Homo sapiens: one gene and its partner. The protein of the gene in region 1 interacts with the protein of each later gene in a biochemical or structural test. Each region holds a gene or a part of one and is shown in the gene's direction. Other genes may lie near its edges.

Region 1 (3,500 bases):
TATTCCCTACAAAGAAATACATCTCTGCTACTGTCATTAATATGCTGCTCTTTGTTGTCAAACAGATGAGTACTAATAGTTTGCACTTATTGGTGTTATGTACTCTGGCACTGAATATATATTAATGTTGCTTTTTAAGTAAAATGTTTCTAATTATAATATATTTATGAATAGTTTTGAGAGAATATAGTCTTACTGATAAGAGGACAGACTCTGGATCCAGACTTCATGGATTCAAATCCTGACTCATCACCTGTTAGCAGTATGTGAAAGAACAAGTAACTTAACCTGTGCTTCAGTTTTTTAATCTATAAAATGGGGAGAACTAGGGAGAAAGTTGTACCACAAGGAGATAGGCAATGGCCAGATCATATAGGATTCTGTAGGTAGTGGAAAGATACATAAGTCAGTGGGAAGCCACTGAGAAGATATAGGCAGGTGCCAATTAATAAGTTATTATATGAATTTTCACAAGGTTTTCTTAGGCCTTTAAGTTCTGTTACTACCTACGTTTTGAGCAGTGACAACAGTGAAGGTTAACAGAAAAACATGAAAATCATCAGCCATGATTAGTTTGAGAGCTTCCTTTTTTAAATATGCTTCTACCCAGGCTATGATTTCAGGCTTGTGGATCATAAAAGGAGTAGTGCTGAAAGTAGGTTGGGTGGATCAAAGGGAATAATTGTAAATATCTTTAATGCTTGGAGGTTAAGAGAAACTTGAACTTTGTAGTAATGGAGATTAAAGCTATTCTCAAGATTAGGTATACCTATTCAATAAAAGAAAGGAATATTTGGGAGTATTGGGGATAAGAGAAGCTAGACATTGTGAATTCAAGGAAAAAGAATTATGAGAGGAGGATGCATTTTAGTTTATTTTGTGATTAAAATTTTTTTAGTTTTTGTTGTTTTGACATGTGACACTGTAATTTTGGCTATAATAAATGACAGAATGTATCATTTGGTATATTGGTTAGGGTTTAGGTAGAAAATTTTTTCCTTTATATAGTGAGTGGTAGCGTATACAATGTTTGCTCACTTCGGCAAAGAGTAGCTTTAGTTTTCTGATTAGTTATAATAGTGATGCTTCCCATCATTTGATATGCCTTAAAGTAGTATTTTACTCTTGAGGTATTCCTTTAATCCTTAGGTCTTGGAGTACTTTATAGATGGTCATTATTTTTTATGATTCCTCTGAAACTAAAGGCAGAGAATCACCCAAGCATTACAAAAATGTTGAGCAAAATAAAAATTAAAGCTTGGTTCCTGAACATTATCTGTTTTCTGGTACCACTTAAGAAGTTTCAAAGGATGAGAAGACTAAGACTAATAACTATTTTTTTCTTCATCTTTTCTTTCAGTGGCAGGATGTGGAAATTGATTTTTTTTTTATTTTCACCTTAACTGAATACTTACTTAATTCTTTTGTTTAAATTGCAGAATGCCGGGTCTAAGTTGTAGATTTTATCAACACAAATTTCCTGAGGTGGAAGATGTAGTGATGGTGAATGTCAGATCCATTGCTGAAATGGGGGCTTATGTCAGCTTGCTGGAATACAACAACATTGAAGGCATGATTCTTCTTAGTGAATTATCCAGAAGGCGTATCCGTTCTATCAACAAACTCATCCGAATTGGCAGGAATGAGTGTGTGGTTGTCATTAGGGTGGACAAAGAAAAAGGTAAGTGAGAAAAATATCTGTAATATAAATTTCAGATTTAAAATGGTTTATTTAAAAATACATTTTTTGTAAATTGCAAGCTGCAGCTTAAAAAAAAAAGCTCCTTTTATACTTAAACCTTTTACATACAAAGTTGTTAGAAAAGGATGCCAATTAGCTATCTAAGCAAGATCTCTTAATAGTAGTTTAATTAGTACATCCTAGGATTTTATGGATCAGATAACTTGAATTTTATTTCTAGTGTTTATCAGGATCTTGATAATTGACTCATGGTAACCAAACTTAGAGACAGGTAAGTCAGAGTACTAGTTCATTTACATTGGTAGGCCTGAATATGTTGGATGCCTTTTTCTTGATTTAAAGCTAAAATAGTAATGAGATCACTGGGTAAGCATGAAAATGGGGCAAATGGATTTTAGGGATCTTTTATATAAGCTTTGAAAAAGCAATATACTATGCGTGTATATACACACCTGAAATCCAACATTGTATATCTTGCTGGTAATTAGAATGTTTGCATCTACCAGATCTCGTGGTATCTTTCAGACAGTTTTGGATGAGCATTCATTTTTTACTTATTGGATGCCTTTTCTGGGCCCCATGTAAATCATCACCTTTGTGAATACTCTTTTTTTAAACATGGTGTACAATACCATTACGTAGGTTTTAGTTTCAGCCATCTTACTATAATTTGTTAGGTGTTAGTTTTAGGTCATTAGTTACCATCATGTCCGAAAGGCTTCATATCAGTCACCTTGATTCAACTTACCCTTCTGAATCTCCTCAGCCGTCTGGTTTACTGATACTTTCTCACTTCTGCAAGTGATTAATTTTATACATACTGACATTTTAATTTTTTTTATTATAGCCTTAGATGATACATAGATTTTGAGGATGTCTTATGCCTTAGGTAGTGACTGCTACTTAGCACATGGATTGTTTTAAATGTTTTGCTATGACTTAGCTATAGCCCCGCCCAAAATTATTAAACTACTTTGAGACTATTTGTTAAACTTAGGTAAGTCTTCACATCACTGTCCTAGTAGTACCTAAAGTAGTGTCTAATCTTGTACTTTTTTTTTTTTTTTTTAAGAATTGGGGTCTTGCTCTGTCACCCAGGCTGCAGTGTAGTGGTATGATCATAGGTCGCTGCAGCCTTGAACTCCTGTGTTCAAGTGTTCCTCAAGCAGTCCTCCCAAGTAGCTGGAACTACAGGCATGTGCCACCCTGCCCAGCTAACTTTCTTTGTAGAGATGGGGTCTTGCTGTGTTGCCCAGGCTAGTCTTGAACTGGGCTCAAGCGATTCTCCTGCCTTGGCCTCACAAAGTACTGGGATTACAGGTGTGAGCCACTGTGCTCAGCCTTCTTTTTCTATTGTATAAAATATACACAAAAGGAGGAATCAAATATGTTTTTAGTTGCAATCAGAAAAAATATGGAATGGCATACTTGCTTACGTACAGTAGATACATGTAAAGATATTTCCATAGCATTTGTTTGTATGGCATTAACTAAAACCAGGAAATGACCAAAATGGGGACTGGTTAAATAAATCAGTACAAATGCGTGCAATGCAATTTTATGCAGAATGAGATCTGAATATTTTGATATGGAAGATCTCCAGGATAGGATGAGAAAAAGCAAAGTGCAAAAGAGCCTGTAGAGAGGATTCATTTTGATACTAGAGAATTATGTCCTCCTAGACAAGCCTTTCAACGTAAATGCCATAAACCCTGAACAAGTATGAAAAATAACTACCTAAAGACAATGAGAAGCAGCCAAAAGCAGGCCAAAATTGAAAATTTGAAGGTGAGTCGAC
Region 2 (3,500 bases), on another chromosome or scaffold:
GGCTATTATTCCAAGCAAGGGTTAGTCATTGCTGTTACTATCATTGCAAAACTCTGATAGTTCTAGATTGTAACCAGGAAGATACAATCAACCACAAAACTCAGCTTCCTCTGTCACAAATTCTAGATAGAGGTAGCCTTTCATGAGGCTGAGAGATGGAAAAATGAAGCGGGGGGACTCTCTTAGGACACATAAATATGCAAAAAAATTGCTACGCTTTAGAAAGCTATACATTCAAATCATAGATAAGCTGACATTAGTAGGCAGTGCATGTTCACAAAAAGACCATTAATTAGAAGAAATGTGAAATATTGTTAATTTCCTTATAGATTTGCCTATGTATAAATGGCCAATTTCACCGTCAATGAGCTCATGCTAAGTACTGAAATAAACTTAGTTTTAGAGCTTATCTTTGGTTAGTTGAAATCTGTATTGAGTTAGTTGAAATCTATAAGTTGATAGAACAGGCTCTTTAAAATCTATTGCAAGCTTTATACACTACAAACAAAAAGATAGAAAAAAGAAAACCTTTCATGAACTCATTGGCTTAGGCAGGTTTTCATGCAGAGTGTAGGTATTGAAGAGTCAGAACGGCTTAAGGATAGAATTTGGCCAATATATAAAAAAATATATATTTGGTATTTGTTAGTTGTATTATAATTATTCAGAAGTTCAGTTAATACGTGCAGTTGGCTTTGAGCCCTTAACCAGCTGTATGTGATAAAATCTGTTTCCTTTAGAGCAATTTCTTATATCCTGCCTTGATGCTCCTGTCTTTAATCTTTGCTAAGAGCTGGTGGTGAATTTGGCTGAATTCAGATTCCGTTTTTCTCTAATTGATTTCTTGAAGAAAATTCTCTATTGGTTGCTTTTCTTTCCTAGATTATGCTTTTAGTCTATCCAAATACTTCAGGCTAGAATGTAGGAACTTAGAAGATACAAATCACAAAGCTGTCTCCTCTAGGGATGCTCTCTCTTTCAAATAAGTGACTTAAACAACTTATTTTTGTTATCTTGTGTTATGTAATTAATATACCTTTTCCTGGGCTTTCTCTGGCTTTTTTTTTAAATGGACATTATTCAAGTATTTTTTAGAAGTAAAAAAAAAACAGTACAGTAAAGTTTTTATAACGTTTATTTTGAAGTTGTCAGAGACACCTTTAATATTAGACTGGACAATATCTTTAGTCTTTCTTTTGCTTTCTTTTGAAGTTTTTATTTGCTAATTGAAAAGAATGGAATAATAATAATAATAATAATAAATAAATAATAATAATAAATAATATAAATAAATAAATAAATAAATAAAATAAATAAATAATAAAAACATGTTTTTATAAGTGATGGAGTAGTACTTTGCCAAGTGATGAATTTTAACACTCATTTTGATGATTCTTCCTTATCAAAGCCTTGGATGAAATGATGAAAATGGAAATTTTGAGTGCCTGAAGCTGCTAGAATTGCTTTTAAAGTATTGGGTGTGCCAATTAAGAAGGTGGAATATGAAACTCCATGTGGCAACCGCAATTGCATGAAACTAGACTGTAATGGGAACTAAAACCTTGTGCAAAATTGCGGGTTGTTACTTTATCAGGAAGCAATTTTAAGTCTATCAATTATATTTAGGAAACAGGCTGCTTTAAATGAATGGAAAAAGTATTGGTTCTTCTCACAGATGACAGAATAGTAATAAGAGCAATCCCATGCGAATTAAGTGGGGATGATTTCTGCTTTGGATATTATTTTCTTCATGCATTCAGTGTTATTACTTGCAACTCCAGTTACTTTTTAGCAGGTGAAAATGGAAAGAGTTTGTCTGAACATGCTGTTGAGGAATCAGTTTATGGAATCAGTTTATGCCTCATGAGTCATTTATCTTCATATCAAGAATTTAAAACTGCCAAGATTGTCCTCCCAACCTCTCTCACAAACATTCATGAGAGTAGTCTCTAGAGGGGTGAAACAGAATGGTGTAGATAGACAGATCAGTGTAGACCTTGAGCAAGGCCTCTGAAAAACATCCCCAGACTAAAAGGATCTGTGATGGCATTTTGTGTGTGTGTGGCCAAAACAGAGAACACATTAATTTTCAATATACTTAAGATCTTAAAAATATATGTCTCATTAAATAAAAATATTGCCAAGTCATGATAGCAATTCAAGAAATTTCCTTTAAGATAGAGTTTGCCAAAAGAACATGCATGTTACAATTGCACCTCTAGGCTTCCTGCTACAACAAAAAAATCCAGTATAAAATAATTCTTTTCTGGGTTTTTTGTGTTGGGTGGGAAAATATGTAGGACTACTATTTAGACAGCTCAAATAGGAAGAAATGTGAAGATAGCAATTACTTCAATGCTGAGTACTTTTATATCAAGAAATAGAAAAGGAAACTAAATTATTCAGGGAGAAATATCACCTGGATATCTTTTTACAATTAAAATTTTAAATCTGAATTCACTTGTACAGATTGGCACAAGTTATTTTACCTTATAAATGTAATCATTGGCTGGGAGTGGTAGCTCACACCTGTAATTCCAGCACTTTGGGAGGCCGAGGCGGGCAGATCACTTGGGGTCATGAGTTCAAAATCAGCCTAGCCAACATGGTGAAAACCTGTCTCTACTAAAAATACAAAAATTAGCCGGGCGTGGTGGCTGGTGCCTGTAATCCCAGCTACTCAGGAGGCTGAGGCAGGAGAATTGCTTGAACCCAGGAGACGGAGGTTGCAGTGAGTCGAGATTTCACCACTGCACTCCAGCCTGGGCGACAGAGAAAGACTCCATCTCAAAAAAAAAAAAAAAAAAAAAAGCAATCATTAAGCTTTTCATCTAGCCATTACTTTTGTACAGGCTCTCATTAATTCCACATAGATGGTCTAATGGTCTACTAAATAGTATTCTAATCCTCCATCTTGTCTATCTCTTAGCCATTCTCCATGATAAAGGATGAATGGTCTTTCGGAAACATAAATGAAACCATGCTGCTTTAAAAAAACAAACAAACAAAAAGAAACCCATTAATGTTTTCCCAAAGCTTTGTGGACACATTGAAGCTTCTTGTTTCAGCTTCTGCCAACATTTCTCGCTCCAGCAAACTTTCTTCTGCTTCCCAAATATGACAAGCTTCTTCTTTAACTTTTCTGCCAGGTTAATCTTGACTCATTTCAAGAGAGGCTTGGGTCAGCCAGGGCCTACTCTAAGAAGTTTCTTTAGCCCTTATGTTTTCCTATGGAGAGCACACACTAGCTTTAAGTCCTGAGGGTACTTAAGATGATATTTCAATGTTTTTGTACTCTTAGTGCTTGGCATATGGTGGGTGGTCTACAAATTTAGAACAATGTAGTGAACCACAAACTCCTCTCTTCAGCCTGTGTGCTTACTTGTAGTAGTTGTCTGATCTCTAAAATTTAGAACTGAATATGCCAAGAAAGAGTTCAATTTCAGAGAGGAGGGTATGGTTTCATTTTAAGTATAAAAGCTTCCTTTAAAAAAAATTAC

What was found. Proteins that work in one complex are often made in the same cells at the same time.
Region 2: the proteins of EIF2S1 (region 1) and ANXA1 interact in a test that uses a peptide from one of them, tested with the Homo sapiens proteins (one large-scale study listed by BioGRID).

What each region holds. Positions count from the first base shown.
Region 1 is NC_000014.9:67,363,328-67,366,827, forward strand, and holds part of EIF2S1 (eukaryotic translation initiation factor 2 subunit 1), read left to right. Parts: intron 1-1,439; 5' UTR 1,440-1,440; coding exon 1,441-1,681; intron 1,682-3,500. UniProt on the Homo sapiens protein: Member of the eIF2 complex that functions in the early steps of protein synthesis by forming a ternary complex with GTP and initiator tRNA. This complex binds to a 40S ribosomal subunit, followed by mRNA binding to form a 43S pre-initiation complex (43S PIC).
Region 2 is NC_000009.12:73,154,865-73,158,364, forward strand, and holds part of ANXA1 (annexin A1), read left to right. Parts: intron 1-3,500. UniProt on the Homo sapiens protein: Plays important roles in the innate immune response as effector of glucocorticoid-mediated responses and regulator of the inflammatory process. Has anti-inflammatory activity.